Linked DNA regions of Homo sapiens. The protein of the gene in region 2 interacts with the protein of the main gene of each other region in a biochemical or structural test. Each region holds a gene or a part of one and is shown on either strand. Other genes may lie near its edges.

Region 1 (8,806 bases), on a different chromosome or scaffold from region 2:
CCAAACAAAATATCAGCAAGTCAAATTTAGTTATGTATAAAAAGTATAATAAATCACAACCAAACAGGATCTAGTTCAGCAATATAAGAAGGTTTACTACCTGAAGGGCAATAAATTCACCACGTTAACATAAAAATGGAAAAAGATCATATGATCCCCTCAATAGATGCAGAAAAAGCCTGTGATAACATTCAAAACCCATTCAAGATTAAAATTCTTAGCAAACTTGGAATAGAAGGGAGGTTCTTTACTGTGAGAAAGAATACCTACAGAAACCCTACATCCAACGTCATACTTCTCAGTGAAAGATTAAAAGCTTTCCCTGCCTTTTTCAAAGGACATGGGTCTTGCTATGTTACCCAGGTTGGTCTCGAACTCCTGGGCTCAAGCAATCCACCCGCCTCGGCCTCCCAAAGTGCTAGGATTACAGGCGCATGCCACCACACCTGGCCAGCTTTCCCTTTAAGATGGAAAAATAAACAAAGATGTCTGCTATCATCACTTCCACTGGGATACTGTGAAGATGCCTCTTTTATCCAAACTGATATGTAGGTTTGACACAGGGATAAACAAACAGTCCAAAAGAAAAGAATAAAAAGTTCCAAAATAGACCTGTAAATATTACCATGACAAAAGTGACAGTGTACAGTAAATGATACTGGTTCAATTGGTATCCATATGGAAAAACTGGAATCTTGACCTCTTACCTTACAATGTATATAACAATCAATCCCAGATGGGTTGTGGATCCAAATGTGAAAAATCAAACAAGTAAGCATTTAGAAGAAAACACAGGAGAATATCTTGTTGACCTTGTGGTAAGTAAAAACTTTTAAAACAAGACATAAAAAGTGCTAATCAGAAAAAAGTGGTAGATTGGATTTCATTAAAATTAAGAGTTTCTAGTCATTAACAGGAACCATGAAGAAAATAAGCCACAGAAGAAGAGAACATACTTGGGATGCATATGACAAAGGACTCTTATCCAGAATATATGAGGAACTGCTACAAATCAGTAAGAAAAGCCTTGAATTGGTATCTTACAAAAGAGGATATCCAAGTGGAAAAAAACATATAAAAAGGAGTTTACCCTCATTAGTCATTAGAGAATTTTTAGAATCACAATGTGATACCACCATCAGGATGGCCAAAGGGTGAAAAAAAACCCAACAAATCAGACAATGCTAAGTATTGGTGAGAATACAGAACAACCAGAACTGTCATACTGTGCAGTTGGGGATGTAACATGGTTCACCAACTTTGGAATACTATTTGGCAATATCACCTAAAGATGAAGACACATATATCCTACAACCTGGCAATTCTACTCTCAAAAGAAAGGCATAGATGTATCCACAAAACACATGCACAAAAATCATATGATTTTTCTCCATTTTTCTGTTAACGTGGTGAATTTATTGCCCTTCAGGCAGTAAATCTTCTCATATTGCTGAATTAGATCCTGTTTGGTGAATGGCAGCCATTCAATGTAAGACCAAAAAAGCTGACAGAATAGATTAAATTGTAGCATGTTCATACAATGAATGAATGAGAATGAAGCAATATAGATGATTCCCATAAACATAATACTGAGCGAATAAAATAAGACACCAAAGAATTCATACTGTATAATTCAACGTTAATACATTTCAAAAGGGGGCAAAACTCATCCCTGCTGTTAGAAGTCAGGGTTATGGTGGGCCTTGAGGAAACACGCATGGTGAGGGGGCGGCGGTCTTAGGCATGGGTGTACTCAGTTTGTGAAAATTCATCCAGTTTTATACTTGTGATTTGTGCCCTTTGTTGAATATATGCCCATATATGCCAAAACTGCAATTTAAAAGTTTACTTAAGAAAATTATACCGTCACACTACAAGTAACCTGCAATAGAAACTTCAGATTTATTCTTTTAAATATCTCCTTCTTCCACATTGACTTGCCATGGCCCTGTCCAATCTATTCCTCTACTGGCTGATGAGCTATGTGTGAACTGGGAACCATTTCTCTTTATATCACCTCCATGTTCTAGCACAGTACTTTGTACATGGTAGACCCTCAATAAATTGTGAATAAGTGCTCAACAGATTCTATCTATCTTTTGTTTCTTTCTTTACTTTGCCACTATCAATCACGGGGCTTTATTATTGCTATTTTAAAAAGTATTTGCCAATTTGCTTGGTGAAAACTGGTGTCTCATGCATATTTTAATTTGCATTTCTTTGATGATCGGTAAGATAAAATATTTTTTCATATGTTCAATGCTCATTTGTAGTTTTCCTCCTGTGAATGATCTCTTCATTCCCTTTACCCATTTTCCTCTTGGAGCTGTATTGATTCCTTACCATCTGTAGAATAAAATTACCCTCTCCCTTCCTACCTGACCACTAGCAGCAAAGGCTCATTCATTCTCTACTCCTGTCGTCACTATGTTCTCCATTGAGGAAAGGGGAATGAGCTCCTGTATTTTATACCAGGCAGGGAATAATGGGACCCTGAGCCAAGCAGCTACACACTTGCGAGATACTTAGAACTTAAAGTTAGACTCACATCCCTTATAATCAAATTTCAAAGAATATAAGACAACATGGCCCGACTCCTGCCATCATGACAACAGAGAAAATGGTGCCACCCACCTGTAGTGCAGGAAGACGGCTTTGCTGGTTGGGAATTACTTTTAATGAGATCATTCCTTTGGTTTCTTTCTATTAAAAAAAATGGACATAAAATTGTACAGAAAACTAAGTTGAATGATGTGATCATTCATTCAAAGTCCCAGGTTTTTTTCCCCAACAACCATCTTTACATTTTGAGATTTTGTAGGACAATTCCTCCTTTAATACAAAAGTGTCATGTGCCCCATAAATCAGCATAACAATATGAAGACATGCAAAGAGTAACAAAGAAAAGCTAACTAAAGACTTTTCCGAGCTGGGCACGGTGGCTCACGCCTGTTGTAATCCCAGCTCTTTGGGAGGCTGAGGTGGGCGCATCGTCTGAGGTCAGGAGTTCAAGACTAGCCTGGCCAACATGGTGAAACCCTGTCTCTACTAAAAATACAAAAATTAGCCAGCGTGATGGTGGGTACCTGTAATCCCAGCTACTTGGGAGGTTGAGGCAGGAGAATCGCTTGAACCCAGGAGGCGGAGGTTGCAGTGAGCCGAGATCACGCCATTGTACTCCAGCCTGGGTGACAGAGCGAAACTCCATCTCAAAAAAAAAAAAAAAAGACTTTTCTTCCCCATTCTTTACCCCAAAAAGTCCTGAAGAAGTTCCTAAAAATGAACTATGGCGCATATATATCCACGCCTTTCCCCATACCAACAAAAGCATTACAAATATTTACATACATTATGCATACATATGTATTGTTTGTTTTTAACAAAAATGGGATTCTACTATATACGTTATAGCTTGCTTTACTTCATTTGGCATTACTTCATGGAACACCAGATTGATGCTCTGGGTTATTTGCCCTGCTTTAGAATTTTACTAAATAAAGGCAGAAAATTATCATTTCTTACACAGATTAAAGACTAGCAGTGAAAAGAGCCCCCTCAAGAAGGTACAAATACTTTGACAGAGAGATGAGGTCACTGATACCAATGTGGATCAACACTTATGGAGACAATGGAAGGTCTTCATCTAGCATAGAAAATACCCACCATCGCCTTCTGCAGCTGATCCACTGAATGATTTGTCACATTTGTGCCATTGATTTCTAGGATCTCATCCCCCACGTGAAGGGAGCCTGCCATGAAATGAAAAATCAATCCACAAAAGAACAAAAGTTCAAACAGGAGCTGTCAATGTAACTCAAGATACCATAGAAGAGAAACCAGGATTTACAGCATGTTATGAAACAGATTGTGTCAAATACTCAGGATTGAAAACATTTGACTTGACAGTTTAAGATGGTCTCATCCTCCTTGGCCTCAGTAGTCCAACAGCACAATAAAACACCTTGTCCTCAAATTCCTGGAACTAGAGTGGCTACTGACTCCAGACTATGACACAGATGTATACACTAAAAAGAATAACAAAGCAAGGCAAAGAACTCAGTACTCCTCTTTCACCAGCAAGCTCCATGTTTCTTTGTTGTTTAGCTCAAACCCCAAAATGCTACCAAGTGGTACTGCTGTCCTTTCCAAGTCTAATGCAATGGGTGGCATGTGGCAATTGCTCAAATATTAACTTACTAGAAAAATATTGGTATAAATAGGTGTGAAAGAAGGCTCAGATAGGGAGATGGTGGCACTGGGCAATTCACATAGAGATCTTATCATGTACTGATTCTACAGAGCCAGTTATTAAGCCACAAAAAGTCTCTTGGCACACTCACAAAAATGCTACCAGTTTGGAGGATTATAAGCTTCATGCCCCACACCACTGAACAGGGAGTAAATTATTAATCCCTGAATCAAACCCCACCCAGAGCTCCCACAGAGTACCTTGTCTATGGATCATGCCACCATGAAGAATTCTGGCCACCGTACAGGACTGTTTTTCATTCAGCTTCAGCGTGATTCCCTGAAATAAAGGCGACGGCACAATAAGCTTTATTTTAAGCTCTTTCTGAGGTTATTTTAGAAAGAACTTACGGTAATTTCTCAGGAAAATATTTTCCATTTATACCCAGGATAGTCCTCAACTAGAACAGGCATGAAGCCTGCTTTGAGGAGGAATTTGAGATAAGAATGAAAAGACAATTTTGGGGTTGGCCAATTCCCTAACTCCATGAGCAGCCTCTTGCATTGACTCTTCTGGCCCAGTGACTCATGGGGCAGAGAGTAACTGGTGGGCGACAATATGACGGGGGATTACCATGGGCTCTTCTGTGACCTTCTCAAACTGTATGAGTCGCACTTTCCGCACCTCCTGTCCCTTGACCTGGGCAGGGCTACCTGGGGCAGGAGACCCGTTGGTGTACATGTCCTCGGTCACAGTATTCAATGGATGCGATACAGCCTGCCAAGCCAAAACAACAAAGCAACGTATGAAATCAGGAGCAAGGCCCACAGCCAGTCCACAATCTGCAATTCTAACATTCAAGAGGCTCTGAAAACTTATTTCATAAGTTTGGCCTCATTCTTATTTGAATTGACATGAAGCTGTTTGTAAGCTTTATTTCTCCAACTTAATAGACATGTCAGCCAAGTGTGGTGGTGTGCACCTGTAGTCCCAGCTACAGTCCCAGGGCAACAGAGTGAGACCCTGTCTCTAAAAATAAATAAAATAGACATGTTTATCTAGGTTGCTGCAGAAATATTAATGTGCCTTGATTTACATGGTGCTCTCCTGGATCCTGCTTGGGGTATTACATAATATATAACAAAATTAGAAAGATTCTGAATCCTGCGGCACCTCAGGCTCCAAGGGTTTCTGGCATGTTCTCTTCTCCTTTGTATTTCCTTGAACAACCTGATGCTCTCGGTCACACAGCAATAAAGGTAATTCAGGTTAGCATCAGTTTCTCATGAATCACCCCTTAGGCTACAAAGAACTTCTACCTGTAGAATTAGGCACTTAGGACTGGGCCCCGAACCGCGGTGATAACAATAATACATTGCCACTGTGACTTCTTCCCCTGATCTCAAAGACAGCAAAGCTAAATGAGTTACTCTACCAGGCAGCAAGGCCTCTTTATTATAAATCTAAAGTAATTTAAGGCACTGTGGTAAGAAGAAAGACAAACGACCCATGTAATGGAACAGAGAGTGCAAAAACAGAGCCACACATTTATAGTCAGGTGACACTGCAGTGCAGCGGGGAAAAATGGTCTGCACGATAAATGTCATAAAAGGTCCCGAGTATAAAATGAAAACTAAAAAGACAAACACTTTAAAAGTAAGAAGTCTATTCATCAAAAAACTCCACTGAGATAAGCATAGATTTAGTAGACGAGACACGGAGCAATCATCATACAAGCAAACAACTGACTTCATCAAATTCAAACATCTTACATAAGAAACTAGACAGGTATGACACAGCCTGAGAATAAACATTTGCAATATTTACATCTGACAAAGGATTTGTATCCAGAACATATAAAGAACTCTTACAATTTAATAACAGGATGAAAAGAACCATAAACAAATCCTGAACTTGAGCCAATGATATGCATGCTGAAGCTTTCAGGGGTAAAGTGCTCTGATATCTGAAACTTATTTTGAAATACCAGGAAAAAGAAGGTGGATAGATGGGCAGTTTTTGGATAGAAATGTGATAAAGCAAACACAGCAACATGTTAACTGTAGAATCTAGGAGGTGTGGCTATATGGGTGTCACTATAAAATTCTTTCATCTTTTTGGCGCCATTCCAAGAGCAGCCAGTACTCTTTAAAAAATATTATAAAATTTAATTTTTGAACCATTTGAGAGTAATCTGAAGACTTCATTCTCCTTTACCCATAGATGTCTCTATATGTTAGGAACGAGCATTTTCAAAACTGAAAATTTAACATTGACACAATATTGTCATCTGCCAACCCTTTCAAGAATGTCCTTTATAGCTATATATTTCTTCCCCAGTCCAGAATCCAACCTAGGACTTTTTGGTCCCAGAATCCAATCTAAGACCAGAATCCAATCATGCATTTCACATTTCCTTACTCTTCCTTAATTTGGAAAATTTCCTCAGCCTTTCTTTTTCTTCTTTCATGACCTTGACATTCTTGAAGAGTACACACCTGTTATTTTGTAGATGTCTCTCAGTTTGGGGTTATCATCTGATGTTTTTTCAAGATTAGACTGGGATTTTGCATTTTTGGCAGGAATTCCAGGAAAGTAGTGGTGTGCCCTTTCCAGAACAACACTACTCTTAAAAGCCCAAACCTGAAAATAGCCCAAAAGTCCATCAACAGTAGAATGGATAAACTGAAGCATATCCAAGTGGATACCCTACATCAATGGCAATGAATGGCTACTGCTACACCACTCCATGGTAGATCACCTGTGGATCAGTCTCACAGGTGATCACTCTCTTCTCCTTAAAATGCTCCTTCTCAGTTTGCTTTGCTGTTCTTTCCTCATCTTACTGATCTGGGTAAGAGCAATCACAATGGGGAAAAACTATGGAAACCTCTGAAAATGCTCCCTGCCCACCCCAGATAAAATATTAAATCAAAAATGATATAGCCACCTGGAGGAGGAGGAGGAGGACGAGGAGGAGGAATAGGCCTGAAGTGGGCTTATGGAAGGGTCTGCTGAAAATAGGGGATAGCTGCATTCCAGTCACACCCAGAGGTGACCCTCAAAGACAGTAGGGAGGGAAGATCTTCCCAATAGGCAGAACTGTGAGGAGTGTGCCATTCACTGTGTGGGGAAGGAGAAGGGTCCCTAGATGGGAATAGATGGTATGCCTGAGCAGTGTCCACTGGCCTGCCCAAGGCCTAGAAAAGGACTAGAAGATGAGAGAGAAGGAAGTCTGGAGTAGAGGCTTACATCATTTCTAAGGGACTCTGATTTCTAAGTAGAAACTTTGATAAGATGGTGAGGTTTGGGCCAGGTGCAGTGGCTAACACCTGTAATCCCAGCACTTTGGGAGGCCAAGGTGGGGAGATCGCTTAAGCCCAGGAGTTTGAGACCAGCCTGGGCAACATGGTGAAACTCCTGCCTCTGTAAGAAATTTTAAAATTAGCTGAGTGTGGTGGTGCAAGCCTGTGGTCCCAGCTACTCAGGAGGCTGAGGCAGGGGGATTGCTTGAGCTCAGGAGTTGGAGGCAGCAGTGAGCCATGATCACACCACTACACTCCAACCTGGGCAACAGAGGAAGACCCTGTCTCAGAAAAACAAACAAACAAACAAACAAACAAAAAACATGGTGAGGTTTGAAGTAGTATTCGCTATCAGGTGACCTCAAATGAGGGAAGTACTGAGAAAGAGAAACTGCCTTCTCTAGCAACTAGAACTTCAAAAAACTCACATGACACCAAGTCATATGGCATTGCTGTTATAACAAAATTGTCTAAGATAGGCTTATATTTAAAAAATTGACTTATGATACCCGGGATACACCATGTAGGTAGGAAAAGGAGGTTCTGAGGGTGATCTTGAAGATTTATTGTTAAGCAAAAAATAATAATAATGTGATGAAGGGTATACTAGCTTCATCATAAACAGTGAAAGAATGATTATATTCATATTTGCTTAAAAATCCATAAACTGGCCAGGTTCAGTGGCTCACACCTGTAATCCCAGCACTTTGGGAGGCTGAGGTGGGAGGATCACCTGAGGTCAGGGGTTCGAGACCAGCCTAGGCAACATAGTAAAACCTCGTCTCTACAAAAAATAAAAAAATTAGCCGGGCATGGTGGCGTGCACCTGTAATCCTAGCTACTCGGGAAGCTGAGGCAGAAGGATTGCTTGAGCCCGGGAGGTCAAGGCTGCAGTGAGTTGTGATTACACCACTGCACTCTAGCCTGGGTGACAGAGTGAGACCCTGTCTCAAAAAATAAAATAAATGAAAATACATAAACTATGTCTGGAAGGAGACATAAGAAACAGTGGTTGCTTCTAGGGAGAGGAACTGGGTGGCTATAAGATGGGGTGAGAAGGAAATTGTTTTCACTGTGTATCAAGTTATACCTTTTAAATTATGTATTATGTGCTTGTGTTACTTTAATAAAATAAATTAGTAAAAGAATTTTCCAAAGTGATTGGGACTCAGGTTCAAGTACTTGTGTGGATCTTGTCCTGCCTCAACCTTGACCCTGTTTAAGTAAGAGTAAACGGGAGGAGGGAAATAGAAACCCACAAAAAGTCATCAGGGTTGAAGGATTTCTTTCTCTTTGTTTTTTTTCCTTTTCT
Region 2 (8,806 bases):
TAATGGCTGTCGTAACATCTTTTCTAAACAGCCATAAAATCTGCGAATTCCTTCTATCTTACGGAGCAGGCATTTATATACTACTTTGTTTCTTCTACTAGGCGACAGGTGCTGTGGGCAGGGCCTATATTGGAATTAGCTTTGTATTATTTGTATCACCTGTGGTGTCCTGCAAAAAAAACCAGAAATCCCCCAGAGAGTTAAGCATTTAACTCAGGCTTGAAACATTTATGGGAAATCTATTGCCATATTGTTCAGGTATACAATAAGCTAGGTGTTTTACACCTCTTATCTTGTTTAAGTTATAAAACTCTAATGGCTAGGCCCTATCACTTGCATTTTGCAAAAGAGAAAAATCGAGGCTTAGTAAGATTGATTAAACTGTTGAAATGACTGAGCCCCTAAGTGATGGAATGGGACGGAAACCCAAGTCTGCCTGCCTCTTGCCCATTCTGCCGATGGCCTCCCAATCACTTGGATAGCCTGGCTCTGTATTCCCTTGGTGTAGCTAGAAGGGAGACAGCGGGGAGAAGTGTGGTTGTCTTTAAAGGCACTGGCCTGCCATACTGGTCCTATTGTCATACATTTAATGCATGCTGTGGACATGCGTGAGTATAAGAAGGTGGCTAGGACAAGAAGCTGACTACTGTGAGCCAAGACAGTACCTGTATTAGGGTGGATTACAGCTGTTGACAGGAAGAACTGGCACCCACAGAAGAGGCTGGGAGAGAAGCCTGCAGCTACGTTGGACATGGGGCAACTGGGAAACAGGCCAGACAGACCTAGTGTACTGTGGGGCAGTGAGACCCATTTTGATCCCATCAGTAGTGAACGGAACTCAAATACATCGCTGTGCTGAGCTGGTATGAGGACAGAGACTGCTATTCATGGAAGGCTGTATGGTGGGATGAAAACTGTGATAGAAGACAGAGATGACCGGAAAGGTGCAAATGAATGCATAAATGGGGAATCACACAGAATTAAATTGTAATGTAAATTCATAATTTGCAGAATATAAAAGTAAAAAAACAAAAAACCTGTAGGGTGGCACTTGGCCCAGGACTATCCAGAGTCTCATGTTTAGTCACAAGAGGGGCTGGGGCAATCCACGAGCTCCACTTCAAGTTGTCAAAGGAAGTTTCTTGGAAATCACAGATTATTAGTCATCCAAAATTGCTTACCGGAGAGCAACGGCTTTAATGCAGGGGCAGGAGTGGGGGTGGTTCTTGTCCCAGTGCAATTTTAATCAAAAGGGTGGGGTGGGCCTGACAGTCTGCATTTCTAACATGTTTCCAAGCAGAGGCAGGTGATGCTGATCCCAGCCCCTGAGATGAGCAAGCAGGCAGGGCAAGTGGGACAATCTGGCTGTGAGAGGAGGGGTTTCTCAGCAAACATTAATGTAAAAAAGGAGAGAATATAAGAAACTAATATTTTTGCACACTATAGCAAGGTCTAGTACACATCTGTAAAAAGGTATTATCCAAGTAATAGCTTTGAGCAAGGAAAAAAAAATAACAAACCAAAATCAATCTACCTCTAGAGCTGAAAAATGCTTTAAAATGGCCCAGTACTCTCTAAAATGATTAAATCAACCACAAAACCATCTAAATGAAAAATGCAGCCAGTGTTTGGAATCTAACCAGGAAGGCTAGGGTGGTATATACCTCATTTTGGTTCATTCTTTTTTACTTGCTATTTCTTCTGTGAATTAGAAACCTACTTAGCGCCTATTACTTTTTCCTATTTGTTATAATGTCCAGGAAATCTGAGCAGATGAAGCAATTGAAAGAGAATGAAGCCCTGTTTCTGCTGTGTGGACACATTCCTACATCTCCACTGGAAACAATGCCCCTCTCCATCAGCTCCAACAGCAAAGGGACTGCCTGAGATCCTGGGGCTGCAGGCAGGTGTGGAGGAGACGAACCCTGAATATACACACAAAAAGTGGAACCAACTCACCACGATGTTGCCTGAATACACAAATGAAGCTAAAGGTGACACTGTGAGTGAACCAGGACACAAATCAAAAGCCAAGTGGGGCTCAGCGCAGTGGCTCATGCCTGTAATCCCAGCACTTTGGGAGGTCGAGGCAGGTGGATTGCTTGAGGTCGGGGTTCAAGACCAGCCTGACCAACATGGTGAAACCCCGGATCCACTAAATATACAAAAATTAGCCAGGCATGGCAGCGGGTGCCTGTAATTGCAGCTACTCGGGAGGCTGAGGCAGGAGAATCGCTTGAACCTGAGAGGCAGAATGAGCCAAGATTGCGCCACTGCACTCCAGCCTAGATGACACAGCGAGACTCTGTCTCAAAAGCCAAGTGGTTGTAGCTATAATTCAGTCTTCAAATTCAATTTACCCTCCCACATTTCAGATCTCAGGTAATCCTATGATTTGGGGGGGTTTTAAGATGGAACGATATCAATGTGGGGATATAGGTTGTTTTCTAATGTGTACAACAGAGGTTTGTAGATAATTCATATTTTATGGCTACAAGAGAAATTTACAACGTGGCCAAACTAACAGAATGATGTTGATCAGGTAGGACCTAATAACACATTGTCTGAGAGTAAGCAAACATCCCCCTGGCCCCATCAGGAACAGAATCTGAGAAACCTTGCTTTCAGCAAGAGCTACAGCTGATGCTGCCTGCAGAGTGGTCTCCACCTTCTTCACACTCACAAGGATGCTGGGTAGATAATGAGGAATCAGCTTTTGCTGGTTCCCTGGGTATCTTCTGGGCATGAAGCTGTATATTTATTTTTCATGGCACAAGGGTATCATTCATTCAATTGTGACTATAGCCCATTAAATGGGTCTGTGGTGGGAAGAGCTGAAAAGAGCAGTTCCGAAAGTATCTAACACTGACACCCAGAGAACGGGCTGTTGCGGGAGCTGTCGTGTGTGTTTTGTTACCGATTTCTTTGTATGTGCATATCCCTCACTCTCACAGGCACCCACCATGTGCCCTGCAGCATGCCATTTTCTGGGGGTACAGAGACGAATATAAAATGCTCCCTGACTTTAAGAGGCTCAGGGTACTGTGAGATGCTGACCCAGAATTATAAATCATGCCATCGTGCTATCTTCTTTAAAAAAAAATTGTGGTAAAATACACAAAAGGTACTTTATGTACTTTTCAAATTGTGGTAAAGTAACATAAAATTGATCATTGTAATCACTTGAAAATGTTCAGTTCAATTATATTAAATACATTCATGTTGTTGGGCAACCGTCACCATCATCCATCTCTAAAACTCCATTTATCTTGTAAAACTGAAACTCTGTACCCATTAAACACTAATGCCCATTCCCCTACCCCTGCCGCCCACCATCCTACTTTCTGTCTCCATGACTAACTACTCCAGGTACCCACATGTAAGTGGAACCTTATAGCACCGTCCTTAGGTGTCTGGCCTAATTCACTCAGCATAATGTCCTCAGGGCTCATCCATGTCAGAATCACACATGTCAGCATGTGTCAGAATCACCTTCTTTTTAAGTCTGGATAATATTCCATTATGCGTGCGTATCACATTTTGTTTTTCCATTCCTCAGTCAATGGACACTTGGGCTGCTTCCACCTACTGCTCACTGCAAATAATGCTGTTATGAACACGGGTGGGCCACAGATGTTACATTAAAGAATCTGGCCAGGCATGGTGGCTCATGCCTGTAATCCCAGGCATGATTTGGGAGGTTAAGGTGGGCGGATCACTTTAGCTCAGGAGTTCGAGACCAGCCATGGCCAACATGGCAAAACCTGGTCTCTACTAAAAATTCAAAAATGAGTTGGGTATGGTGGTGCACACCTATAATCCCAGCTACGGGGGAGGTTGAAGCAGGAAAATCGCTTGAACCTGGGAGGTGGAGGTTGCAGTGTGCCGGGAATGTGACATTGCACTCCAGCCTGGGCGACAGAGCAAGACTCTGTCTCGAAAAAAGAATCTATAAGATGATGTGGAGAATATAGTTTCAAAGAGGCAGAGATGCTTGAACTGACTGAAAAGGGTGCACACTAAGAGCAAGGCAGACAGGTGCTTGGGGAGAAGGAGGGCACCCTGAGTGCAGGGGATGTGTGTCCATATTGGGAGTTGTGAGGAGAGGGGTGGGAAGGGGAAGAGATTCTACTGTCTTGTTTGTTCTGGTTTAGTTCCTTCAAGAGGCTGTCCTAGTCCTAGCCAAGGGCCCCAGGACACATGTGAAAGGGACATTGCTGGCAGACTTAGATACCTGCAAAACCAGCTCACAAAACTCCACACAGCCTCCCAAGTCCCTCCTTGTTTTCCTTTCACTGACTTTGAGTGAGTCTCTGGTGCCTTTACTGCCTCCAGCTTGGGGGTCTGATTTCTGAGCACTGATGGGGTCATGGGATCTGGGTCTTCCCTTGGGGGCTGAGAGCCAGACAGGTCCTGTCAGGGTGGGCCTGGGGCTCATTAAGGTTGCAGCAGCTGCTCACCCAGGCAAGGAGCTGGCCACGTAAGGATCAGATCTGTGATCAAACTGTTTCAGAAAGAAAGAGTTTGCAGTGAAAGGGATGGGGAGGGAAAGCAAAGCACAGGTTAAAGGAAGGCAAGAAAGACTAAGGAAAGGGCCTGATAATGTTTGGCTGTGTCCCCACCCAAATCTCATCTTAAATTCCCACATGTTGTGGGAGGGACCCGGTGGGAGGTAATTGAATCATGGGGGCAGGTCTTTCCTGTGGTGTTCTCATGATAGTGAATAAGTATCATGAGATCTGATGGTTTTATAAGGGGAAGTTTCCCTGCACAAACTCTCTTTGCCTGCTGCCATCCATATAAGATGTGACTTGCTCCTCCTTGCCTGCCATCATGAGTCTGAGGCCTCCCCATCCATGTGGAACTTTAAGTCCATTAAACCTCTCTTTCTTCTGTAAATTGCCTAGTCTTGGGTATACCTTTATCAGCAGTGTGAAAACAGACTAATACAGGACCAAAGGATGGAGGAGGAGAAAGGCTGGAACAGAAGCTGCAGCAGTGGAGGGGAAGAGAAGGACTTGAGAAATGCAACAAAGTAAAAATCGACAGAATTAGACATAGGAGTGTTGGTGACACAAAGCCAGAGTTGACTTCCTGGAAAAATCCATGAGTAATTAGGTATCAAACAGAGTATCCTGGGTCACGTTAAGCTCCAGCCCTGAGGCCCGGGGCCCACCAACCACAGTAAAGCAGTTCACAGCAGGAAGAATGTTGGTATCCACATTCCATGGTTAGTTTCCAAGACAGGTTAACCTACGTATCACTGATCCCCTTCACACATCCACAAGGAAGACAACAAGCAGACATAGCACTAAATCTTCTGAAATTGAGAAGAGGCAAGATGCTTTAAACAAACCTTTTCTTGTGATTTAATGAGTGCTGTCAGATGCTTCAGTACCAGAGGCCCACCTGGACTGTACATGAAGTTCACATTGTCAAAGATTATCACTCCTTCATGGGGCCAGGCTGGTGGTGGGCGTTTCTGATATTCCCAAGGTGCTTCTTTTTCAAGGTCTGTGTATTCAATGACCCTTTCTACTGAGATCATCTGAAAGAAATATGACATCCCGAGGGGTTAGGAATGGAGGGTGTCATTTATGGATGTTAAGAGACTGTCAATGAAATGTTCTTCTTTCATACATAGTTGGTTAAGGAGAGAAGCAGGAGACAGACGAGGATGTTGATGACTTACAAATTTGGTTCATCATTGTGTAACACCTTCACTTACAACCACTTCCTTCAACATTAGGTTAAAAGAATGAGAGAAATGAATGCTTAGATTTTATTTATCCACTTCTCACACCTGTATTAAAGGCAAGAAAATTTTGTAAAGGAAAGGAATACTTAGAGCCACCAATCAAGAATCTTTTGCTGGCTGGGCGCGGTGGCTCATGCCTATAATCCCAGCACTTTGGGAGGCCGGGGCAGGTGGATCACCTAAGGTCAGGTGTTTGACACCAGCCTGGTCAACATGGTGAAACCCCATTTCTACTAAAAATACAAAAATTAGCTGGGCGTGGTGCTGCATGCCTGTAATCCCAGCTACTCAGGAGGCTGAGGCAGGAAAATCGCTTGAACCCGGGAGGCGGAGGTTGCAGTGAGCCAAGATCGCACTATTGCACTCCAGCCTGGGGTACAAGAGCAAAACTCTGTCCCCTCACCCCTACCCCCCAAAAAAGAATCTTTTGCTATAGAAGGATCACCTGATATAGGTCAGTTAAACTGGATGATCGTGAAACCTCACTGTAATAATTACTCAACTTTTGCTCTATGAGAAGAATGAAAAGATTTTTATGTTTATTGCTTTTCTCTCTTTAGGGGAAGGTGCAAATATTTAAAACATTGATTAAAGCCTCCTATACCACCATAAACTAATACCCTTTGACTAGCACATTCCAAGAGGAGGCTTTCTGTACCAAGAAGGCACACCAGCAAAGTTAAGGCCTTCCTCCCTTCTGTTCTTCACATAAGAGAGTAAACGCTAGAACTGGGAGAGGAGGAGACCTATTAATTAAATGTAAACAACCTCAAAATACTGAAGTCTTCTTTTAACAGGAATGAGGAATTACCCGTTAAGAAACAAAATTAAACAGGCTTCTAAGAAATTAGCTTATATCCTCTCTAGAATTTCAGAACCTCCCTCCTACAGAGACATTTATTACATCTGAAAAAGCTTGTGATGAATATAAAACCTGCTGACAGAGCAACCATAAGACTCAGAAAAAGATGTATATATTTTATTTTACATTAACTTTAAACAGATGGAGGAAGGATCTTAAAAAAAATCTGTTACCAAAGATGTAAAAATAACAGTTTTAATATTTCACATAAGAATGGCTTTTATACCATTTAATGGCAAGGAGATTGAAAAGGCAAAGAACGTGAAGGTAAATATTACCATATTCTCAACTTCAGCACTTTGTCGAACACACCACTGAAACATCCCCATGAGCGTGAGGGCATAGGACAGTGCCAAACCAACCTGCCCGGCATCCAGAGCTACGTAAGGAGGAAGAAGGGAATAAAGTCAGTCTCACTTCAAACCTAAGCCTGGCTCCTTCTGCCACTTACCAAGAGGAACCCTTCATAATGTTGAAACAATTCACATTTAATGACATTAATAGCTATACTTTTACCATTTGTTGCTTGAGATCAAGATACAATGGGGAAAACAACACTGTATATTTAGAAAAATTTTTAGATGATTTTATGAATTCCAACAGGATCGACATAGATTTAATTAACAGTATTACAAACGCAAGAAATAATGTCATTATTCAGACATTCATTATTATGGTTTCAAAGCTCATTACATTATTCCACTTTCTACGTGCAATGCAACCACAGCTGGAAACCACTAAAAACAAAGCAATAGGTTGTAAGTGCCAATGCTTTTGAGACTAAAATACTACTCTCCTTGTTCCATTATTAAGTATTGTAATGCACTGTTGTTACTGGGGTGGTGAACTCATGCCCTGCTTGTCTGGTACCCATGTGGCATTGAAGATAATACTCTCCTGCTGAGAATTTTTCTCAACCTCATGCACCAGGCAACTACAAACAATAGATTCAAGTAGTTGGAAGGCTAACACCCTAAGTTGGACAAAATGCTTCAGAATAAATTGGTTTTCTCTTCACAACTACCAGACACTAACAGGAATGTTCAGAATCTCAACTGCGCATATCTCAACCCATTCAAAGAAAGATAAACCCATCAAGACCCAAATGACTCCTTAAATGAGTCACACTGCTGAATCCTACCCAACCTGACACATCGTAAATGATTTAATACACTTCATTAGGACCAAACAGTATGTAGTAGTAGACAAGGTGGCAAGAGTTTAATAAATGTAAACACAGCTATAAATTGTAATCATACCATACATAGTTATTCACATCTGTACTTACTTTTTGCCAGAATCAGGGACCCAAAGGCAACGATGATGACAAACATGGCACAGATGGCATCCAGACGGACGGCAAACCAGCGGGACGTTGTCAAAAACAAGAACCAAGCCTCTGAATTTGAGAACGGTAATAAGCATGATGAATAAGTAGATGAATGTGCGAGTGTGTTTTGCTCAGTTGAGCTACAGAAGATTTTTACGTGGAGTAGGGCACCAAAGTTGCACACCCAAGGAACCTTTAGATTCCAGAAAGCTAAGTGATACAGGCAATATACGATACACATACACAATGGTACCGTGGCTTTCTGTGAGGATGCATGCGAATATGAAACCCAGAAATATGATCCTAATAAAGAACTGAGAAAAGTAGTCTCATAAGGACATCTCGTACAGTGCTGAGAAATACTTATGTGAAGTGCATCTCATGTGAAGTCCACCCACACACATGGTTGACTGGTCCAGTTCTCCAACAGCAGAGTGCAGCTCCCATTTTACTTCTCCCACCTTCCATACTTACCAGAAGGCCCACACACACTGACTATTGCTTAGGGGCTATATAAAAATGACCTCACTAACAGGATTTGCATGTGGTTTTTTGTTTGTTTGTTTGCTACTTCTTTTTTCCTTTTAGCATGTGGTTTTTAAAGTGCCATTTAATCAGCAAGATAAAATAAAGATTGGAATGACGGATCTGAATTTTGTAGATTTGGTGGAAATTCTGAAATTTCCATATTGAAAAAATCTTCACTGATGCAAGGGGTCAGCAAACTACAGCACGTGAGCCAGCACCTATTTTTGTAAATAAAGTTTTATTGAAACATAGTCACAGCCATTTGCCAATGTATTGACATCTGCTTTTGTGCTACAATGGCAAAGGTGATTCATCACAACAGAGACAA

The links.
Region 1: the proteins of ABCC4 (region 2) and MPP1 form a complex in vitro, tested with the Homo sapiens proteins (2 studies listed by BioGRID and IntAct, with this or other methods).

The regions. Positions count from the first base shown.
Region 1 is NC_000023.11:154,787,320-154,796,125, forward strand, and holds part of MPP1 (55 kDa erythrocyte membrane protein), read right to left. Parts: intron 4,967-8,806; coding exon 4,823-4,966; intron 4,529-4,822; coding exon 4,450-4,528; intron 3,750-4,449; coding exon 3,664-3,749; intron 2,704-3,663; coding exon 2,635-2,703; intron 1-2,634. UniProt on the Homo sapiens protein: Essential regulator of neutrophil polarity. Regulates neutrophil polarization by regulating AKT1 phosphorylation through a mechanism that is independent of PIK3CG activity.
Region 2 is NC_000013.11:95,066,306-95,075,111, forward strand, and holds part of ABCC4 (ATP-binding cassette sub-family C member 4), read right to left. Parts: intron 8,020-8,806; coding exon 7,909-8,019; intron 7,000-7,908; coding exon 6,899-6,999; intron 5,549-6,898; coding exon 5,357-5,548; intron 1-5,356. UniProt on the Homo sapiens protein: ATP-dependent transporter of the ATP-binding cassette (ABC) family that actively extrudes physiological compounds and xenobiotics from cells.